Linked DNA regions of Homo sapiens: region 2 is linked to region 1. Evidence: fine-mapped expression QTL. A gene starts in region 1. The other region holds a variant in brackets. All regions are shown on one strand. Distances are from middle to middle.

Region 1 (4,000 bases):
TCAACCTCCCAAGTAGCTGCGACTACAGGCAAGCACCACCATGCCTGGCTATGCCTGGCTAAGTTGTGTATTTTTTGTAGAGACGGGAGTCTTGCTATGTTGCCCAGGCTAGTCTAGAATTCCTGAGCTCAAGTGATCGGACTGCCTGGCCTCCCAAAGTGCTGGGATTAGAGACCACTAATGTACCTTTGAGCACTTTAAAAAAAAAATTATTATTATTATTTTTTGAAATGGAGTTTTGCTCTTGTTGCCCAGGCTGGAGTGCAATGGTGCGATCTCAGCTCACTGCCACCTCTGCTTCCCGGGGTTCAAGCAATTCTCCTGTCTCAGCCTCCTGAGTAGCTGGGAATACAGGCACCCGCCACTACGCCCGGCGTAAGTGCATTTCCTGCATTTAATAGATGGCGAAACTGAGGCTCCGGAAGGAAGGTTAAGTCCATGGATGGTTACTTAGTAAGTAGCTCATTCAAATCCAGGCCTGTTGAACCCCAAAGTCCATGTTTTTAAGATTGTCTTGTCTTTCCTTAGCTCCGGACGTTGGTGTTATTATTATTATTATTTTTTTTTTTTTGAGACGGAGTCTTGCTCTGTCACCCAGGCTGGAGTGCAGTGGCGCGATCTCGGCTCACTGCAAGCTCCGCCTCCCGAGTTCACACCATTCTTCTGCCTCAGCCTCCCCAGCAGCTGGGACAACAGGCGCGTGCTGCCACGCCCGGCTAATTTTTTTGTATTTTTAGTAGAGACGGGGTTTCACTGTGTTAGCCAGGATGGTCTCGATCTCCTGACCTCATGATCCGCCTGCCTTGGCCTTCCAAAGTGCTGGGATTACAGGCGTAAGCCCCACGCCCAGTGGAATTTTCCTAGTTCTTTACACTAGCCATGTATTTACCTATAAAATCAGGAGAAATATGTATATATATAATATATTAAAACATATATATATTTAAATGGGGAAATATGTAACAAACAAATAGAAACAAGGGGAGAAAGGCATTGTATTTGACAAAACACATATGTTCAGGTCTGAGAAGGCTCATAAAGAATGTTGTCTGCTATACTTTGTAGTTGCTTCTGTTATCACACAATCAGTCTGCATATACAGGCGTTTTATATATATATTTATATAGACTACATATATACGTATATTATATATGTAAATATTTCACTGTCTTTGAGGACGGGGGCCCTGTCTTTTTTATCTGTGGTTTTGCTTAGATGTCCTCCAACATAATCTTAACACATAGTATGCTTTTAGAAATCGTTGACTGAATGCTAAGGACGAAAAACCGGTGACCAGAAGGCAACCAGGAAAGGCTTTGCTGACCTCCGGAGTGGTGGAGTTGGAGGTTCTGGGAAGGCGACTAGGGAGCCAGGCAGGGGCGGGGTGGGATGGGATGTGGACAGCGCTTTTGCGGGGGGAAAGCGTTTTTGCTGCTGGAATTGAGCAGTAGGAATGTGTCAGTCACATCCCCACCTTCCCAATTCTTGTCATCTCGGTTCAGGAAGGTGAACGGTGTTCCGATTCCCCGCGGCGGGGGCCTGTAGTGGGAGCTCTGCCCCTTCCCCGCCTCTGCTGCAGGCCCCGCCCCTCGCCCGGAACCCCGGGGCGCTGGCCGCGGTGCTGAAACGGCGCCCTCCGCGGACGGAGGAGGGGGCGGGGCTCTCGGGAGCCGTGAGCCGGGAAGAGGGAGACGGGCAGGGCGGCGCCAGCAGGCCCTGGTGGGCTTGGGAGGAGGCAGGAGACTGGAGACAGCCTCGGCTAGAGCGGACACAGGCACCTGGCAAGCTTTCCTTGACCAAATCAAGGTTGTCCTTGTCCTATTAAGCCTCTTCCCCTTGCCTTGAAGGGACCTCACCTGGTGCCCTGACCTCAGCCTCCTCCCCAAACCCCGCTGGGGAGTGACCTGCTTCTAGGCCTCCATCCACAAAGCTACGGACTTGCAGCCCACGGGACCCCAGCCCAGGGCCTGCTGCCCTCACCATGGTGAAATTGCTGCCGGCCCAGGAGGCAGCCAAGATCTACCATACCAACTATGTGCGGAACTCGCGAGCCGTGGGCGTGATGTGGGGTACCCTCACCATCTGCTTCTCCGTACTGGTCATGGCCCTCTTCATCCAGCCCTACTGGATCGGCGACAGCGTCAACACACCGCAGGCAGGCTACTTCGGCCTTTTCTCCTACTGCGTGGGTAACGTGCTGTCCTCCGAGCTCATCTGCAAGGGCGGCCCCCTAGACTTCTCCTCCATCCCCTCTAGAGCCTTCAAGACTGCCATGTTCTTTGTGGCCTTGGGCATGTTCCTCATCATTGGCTCCATCATCTGCTTCAGCCTGTTCTTCATCTGCAACACGGCCACAGTCTATAAGATCTGTGCATGGATGCAGCTGGCTGCGGGTAAGCAGAGATGGTGGGAGGGCAGGCAGGGGCCCACCCCGGGGCCACAGCTGCAGCTGCACCATCCCAGCCTCTGCCAGGGCTCTGGGCCTTAAATTTAGCTGTTCTCCTATAGCCCAGTCCTACTCAGTGCTCTGCAGAAGATTCTGAGGAGTTGAGAATCTTAAAATGGCAGAGGCAGAAAAGACCTTAGAGACCAAGCTGTCCAACCCTCTCATCCTACAGATGAGGTTCTGAGCCCAGAACCTCATCTGAGCCCAGAACCTCATCTGTAAGGGGAAGTGACTTGCCCAGGAGCACACAGTTGCCAGTCCTGATTCCCAGGCCATCACATCAGTTTTTGCAGCTGTGAGAGAGAGAAAGAAGGAAGCTTCCATTGTTGGCCATGTGGGAATAGGACTCAACCCTAGCACAAAGTAGTGACACCAGTCAAGCACATTCTAGATGCCTTCATCTCCCACCTCTGGGCTTTTGTTCTTTTTAAGAGTGCCCAGAACTCTGTCCTCATTCTCTCTCTCCCACTCCAAACTGCTCTCAGATTCTAAGGTCTCTTGCTGATTTTGGAGTGTTACTATTATGCAGGGTATGACCTTGCCTATAGAAACTTTCATCTAAATTCCCCTCTTTCATTGTGGAGTGAAAGTCTTTTTTCCTTGATCATGGGATTTTATACTTAAGGCAGCAAATGGAGTGATATTTTGTGAGGTAGAGGAAGCTATTTAGGGTCCTTTTGTTGTTGTTGTTGTTTGTTTGTTTTTTGAGACAGAGTCTCACTCTTTGGCTCAGGCTGGAGTGCAGTGGCATGATCTCAGCTGACTGCAGCCTCAACCTCCTTGGACTTAGGTGATCCTCTCACATCAGCCTCCCAAGTAGCTGGGACTCCAGGTGCGCACCACCATGTCTAGCTAATTTTTTTTGTATTTTTTGTAGAGACGGGGTTTTGTCATGTTGCCCAGGCAGGTCTTGAACTGCTGGGCTCAAGTGATTTGCCTGCCTCAGTCTCCCAAAGTGTTGGGATTTCAGATGTGATCCACAGCACCTGGCCTAGGGTCCTTTAAAACAATGTGGGGGCTGGGCACAGCGGCTCACACCTGTAATCCCAGCACTTTGGGAGAGAGCATCACTTGAGCTCAGGAGTTTGAGACTAGACTGGGCAAGATGGAAAGACCCTGTCTCTAAAAATAATAATAATAATAATAAATAAAATAAAACAAATAAAACTGTGGGGTAGGCAGCTACTTGTGCCTTGAGGCAAAACCTCCCTGGTCCTTTTTCCTGCTTCTAGCTCAGGAAGGCTTCTTGGTCCTTGTGCCAAGTGGTCTTGCTCTTCTCTGTAGCCCAGGAAGAGGGTTAAGACCTTGTGCTGCAGCCTCTGGTACCTTGGTCCCTGCACACCTCAGGGGCCACAAACTGTCCATGTCGGTGAGATGTCCAGGAGTAGTGCCGGGGACTGGAAACTAGAGTGAAACCATCTCATTGGTCAGAATGAGAAGTGCTGTCATCTTTAAGAGGGAGACTGAAACAGGCATCTGAATCCCAGACCACCAAACATGCAGATTCAAGACTGCAGAGTTGGAGGGGACCCCAGAGAGCTATATCCACCCCCC
Region 2 (4,524 bases), 22 kb before region 1:
GTGATAGGGCTGTGAGCAAGAAAGATAAAAATCCTTGCCCTTGTAGAGCTGTCACTCTAGTGTGTGAGGCAAAGAAGTAAAACATTACAATAGATGCTATTAATAATAGCATCTATCTCAGGTGATAAGCAAGGAAAGGGAAAATAAGAATCGAGCTGTGGGAGTGGTGGTGTGAGAAGGGTTTGCAGGTGTTTTTTTTTTTTTTCTTTTTCTTTTTCTTTTTTTTGGGACAGAGTCTTGCTTTGTCACCCAGGCTGGAGTGCAGTGGGGCAATCTCGGCTCACTGCAAACTTAGCCTCCTGAGTTCAAGCGATTCCCCTGCCTCAGCCTCCCGAGTAGCTGAGATTACAGGCACCCACTGCCACGCCCAGCTAATTTTTTTTTCTGTATTTTTAGTAGAGACAGGGTTTCACCGTATTGGTCAGGCTGGTCTTGAACTCCTGACCTCAAGCAATCCACCCGCCTTGGCCTCCCAAAGTGCTAGGATTACAGGCGTAAGCCACCGCACCTGGCCAGGGTTTGCAGTTTTAAATGGGGTGCTCAGGGAAGAGTTTACTAAGAATGTGAAATTTTAGCAAAGACCTAAAGGGAGGGAAGTCCTTCCTAACCGGCAAAGCAGGGGGGTCTCTGGGAGAAGAGCATTCAAGGTGGAGGGAACAGCCAGGGCAAAGGTCTGGGGGCGGAAATGTGCTGGCATATTCAAGGAATAGCAAAGAGGAGTAAGAGAGAGTGGAAATCATGGGAGATGAGCTCAGAGAGATAAATGGAACACAGTTACAATATTCTCATTTATTCAACAGTTATGCATTCAGCACCTGCAATGTGTAAGGACTTTAGTCCAAGGGGGCTAAGAAATATAGCAGTGAACGTGAGAGCAGAAGATCCATGTCCCAGAGCTGAGGTTGCTAGCGGGGGAAATAAATTATTTTTAAACATATAAATAAGATGATTTCAGAGAGTCATAAGTGTTGTGAACAAAGTACAACCAGGTGATGGGGACTGCTCTGCTGGTGTCCAGGAAGTCTTCAGCCTGAGGCAGGAGGGGGAGGCAGCCGGGCAAAGAGTGCAGGACAGGGTGCTCTGGGCAGAGGGCCAGCAAGCGCAAATGCCCTGGGGCCAGGCCAGGTGTGGATTCAGAGCCCCAGTGATGGCTTTGAATCCAGAGAATGGCATTGTGGGAATTATCTTTTAAAAAAGACTCCTCTAGCTATTCTGGGAAGAACTGACTTGAGGAGGTTGGGGAGGTGGAAGTGAGAGTGGGGATGGTGAGGGGGTACCTGGGGGAGGTCACTGGCAAGGATGGAAGCAGGGAGGCCGGGAGGCGGCTATAGCCAATCCTCCTTTCCTGCCTTATTTTCTTTATAGCACATAATCGTACATAATAGGATTATACATATATAATATAAATATTACTTATTGTTATGTATATAACATATGTGGTAAAAATCACACCTTACTAGGTGCTCAGATCTTGAGTTTACATGGAAATCAATGGATTCGAACCTATGCAGACCCCCTCATCACTACCGTCAGAACAAGATATAGGACATTTTCATTACCCCAAAAGCCTCACTCTTACTCTCCTAGTCAATAGCACCAAAGGCAACTGTCTCCTGACTTCCATTATTATAGATTAGTTTTGAACTTTGTATGATGAAATCACACAGTATGTACTTTTAAAAAAAAATTTGGGCCAGGCGCAGTGGCTCACGCCTGTAATCCTAACACTTTGGAAGGCCGAGGCAAGTGGATCACCTGACGTCAAGAGTTCGAGAACAGCCTGACCAACATGGTGAAAGCCCATCTCTACTAAAAATACAAAATTAGCTGGGTGTGGTGGCACATGCCTATAATCCCAGCTACTTGGGAGGCTGAGGCAGGAGAATTGCTTGAACCCGGGAGGCAGAGGTTGAACTAAGCCAAGAAAGTGCCATTGCACTCCAGCCTGGGCAGTAGAGTGAGACTTTGTCTCAAAAAAAAAAAGGGGGGCTGGGCGCGGTGGCTCATGCCTGTAATCCCAGCATTTTGGGAGGCCGAGGCAGGCAGATCACGAGGTCAGGAGATCAAGACCATCCTGGCTAACACAGTGAAACCCTGTCTCTACTAAAAATACAAAAAAAATTAGCTGTGCGTGGTGGCGGGTGCCTGTAATCCCAGCTACTCAGGAGGCTGAGGCAGGAGAATGGCGTGAACCTGGGAGGCACAGCTTGCAGTGAGCCGAGATCGCACCACTGCATTCCAGCCTGGGCGACGGCGAGACTCTATCTCCAAAAAAAAAAAAAAAAAAAAATCTGACTTATTTTGCTCAACGTTTTTTCTGTGATACCGTATCATTTCACTTATGTATCTCTTCCCTGTCTTCCCTCTCTAGAGCTGTGTGTGTCCAATAGTGCAGTTACTAGTGTGAACCCAAAATATCTGAGACAGGTCTCAGTCAATTTAGAAAGTTTATTTTGCCAAGGTTAGGGACACACCTGTGATACAGCCTCAGGTGGCTGGGGTGCACCTTGCTTTTTTTTTGTTTTTTGTTTTTTGGGGTATAGCTTGCTTTTATACACATTGGGGAGACATAATATGTCA[G/A]TCAGTACCTGTAAGATTTACATTCGTTTGATCTGGAAGGGTGGGACAACTTGAAGTGGGGGGCATGACTTCCATTCCAGGTCATAGGTAGATTTAAACAAATTCTGATTGGCAGTTGGTTGAACAGCTATTATCAGCAGAAGGGAATGTCTGGGTTAAGATAAGGGGTTGAGGAGAGCAAGGTTTTATCATGCAGATGAAGCCTCCAGTAATAGGCTTCATAGAAAATAGATTGTACATGTTTCTGATCAGACTTAAGGTCTTTGTTAATGTTAATGCTGGAGGGGTATTAATGAGGCATGTCCAACCCCCACTTCCCGTCATGGCCTGAACCAGTCTTTCAGGTTAAATTTTAGAGTGCCCTGGCCAAGGAAGGAGTCGACTGAGATGGCTGTGGATTGGTGGTGGTGGGAGGCTTCAAATTTTATTTTTGGTTTACACTAGCCACATATAGTTACTTAGATTTACATTGATTAAAATTCAACAAAATTTAAAATTCAAGCCAGGTGTGGTGGTTCATGGCTGTAATCCCAACATTTTGGGAGGCCAAGGTGGGAGGATTGTCTGAGCCCAGAGGTTCGAGACCAACCTGGGCAACAAAGCAAGACTCCTGTCTCTTACTGGTGGAAGGTATCTGAGTTATTGGCAATGAATCTGTATGCATTTACAGCAACCTCAATTCTTGCCTCCTCAGAAGAAAGAATTCAACTGAGGGGCATAAAGCAGAAAAAGAGACTGAGGCAGGTTTCAGAGCAGGAGTGGAAGTTTATTAAAAAGCTTTAGAGCAGGAAAGAATGGAAAGTACACTTGGAAGAGTCCCAAGTGGGCAACTTGAAGGGCAAGTGCAGTGTTTAACCTTGGTCCTACCCCTTAACAGTCTTGCCTACCTCCAGTGTCGTGTGCCTCTCTCCCCTGATTCTTCCCTTAGGGTGAGCTGACCACATGCGCAGTGTCCTCCTTACCCTTGGGAAGTGAGCACATGCAGGGTGTTTAGGAAGTTGTACGCATGCCCATCTGAGGCTTTGTTCCCTTTTCCTGTGGAGTGTGCCCCTGGAAATTTTTTTTTTTTTTTTTTTTTGAGACAGAGTCTCGCTTTGTCACCCAGGCTGGAGTGCAGTGGTGCAATCTCAGCTAACTGCAAGCTCCACCTCCCGGGTTCACGCCATTCTCCTGCCTCAGCCTCCCAAGTAGCTGGGACTACAGGCACCCGCCACCACGCCCAGCTAATTTTTTGTATTTTTAGTAGAGACGGGGTTTCACCGTGTTAGCCAGGATGGTCTCGATCTCCTGACCTCGTGATCTGCCCGCCTCGGCCTCCCAAAGTGCTGGGATTACAGGCGTGAGCCACCATGCCTGGCCCTGTCCCCGGAAATTCATACTCCTCCATTTTTTCTCTTAATGTGCATTCCCCGGGCTCACTCACCCAACACCTGAGATTTTATTGGAAGCCCTTTTTGCTTCTCTCTGGCCCCTGCTTTCAATGGACACTTTAATGTTAACAGCTGTGGACCATTAGAAGCCTGTCTCTCCCTGGAGCCTAACTGCCAAATTATCATTTTTAGAGAGGCAATGTGATAACTGTTGAACCATCACCTGACATTCCTGGTGGGTGGGGGAGAGCCCTCTCCTACCCCACTCATGCCTGTCTAACTACCTGTAACATCTCTACAAAAAATAAAAAAATTAGCTGGGCATGGTGGTGTGTGCCTGTGGTCCCAGCTACACGGGAGGCTGAGCCAGGAGGATTGCTTGAACCTAGAGGTTGAGGCTACAGTGAGCTATAATTGCACCACTGCACTCCAGCCTGGGTGACAGAGTGAGACTTTGTCAAAAAAAAAAAAAAAAAAAGGAAAGGAAAGAAAGAGGGTTGGGCGCGGTGGCTCATGCCTGTAATCCTAGCACTTTGGGAGGCCGAGGCGGGTGGATCACCTGAGGTCAGAAGTT

What was found. PIP is the estimated chance that this variant, and not a neighbour inherited with it, causes the effect. A credible set is the group of variants that fine-mapping cannot tell apart.
Region 2: its variant is the best candidate, but not a certain one, in a credible set for the expression of LHFPL5 in pancreas (GTEx, PIP 0.65).

What each region holds. Positions count from the first base shown.
Region 1 is chr6:35,803,690-35,807,689 of GRCh38, forward strand. LHFPL5 (LHFPL tetraspan subfamily member 5) reads left to right here and starts at 1,663. Exons shown (of 4, transcript NM_182548.4): 1 at 1,663-2,393. The coding sequence starts at 1,982. RefSeq lists a silencer at 1,532-1,701.
Region 2 is chr6:35,781,538-35,786,061 of GRCh38, forward strand. The region is part of intron 1 of CLPSL1 (colipase like 1); the gene reads left to right. Among named protein-coding and RNA genes, the nearest start is that of CLPSL1, 2.8 kb to the left of the region's middle. RefSeq lists an enhancer at 593-1,094. The variant G/A (reference allele first, on the strand shown) is at 2,581.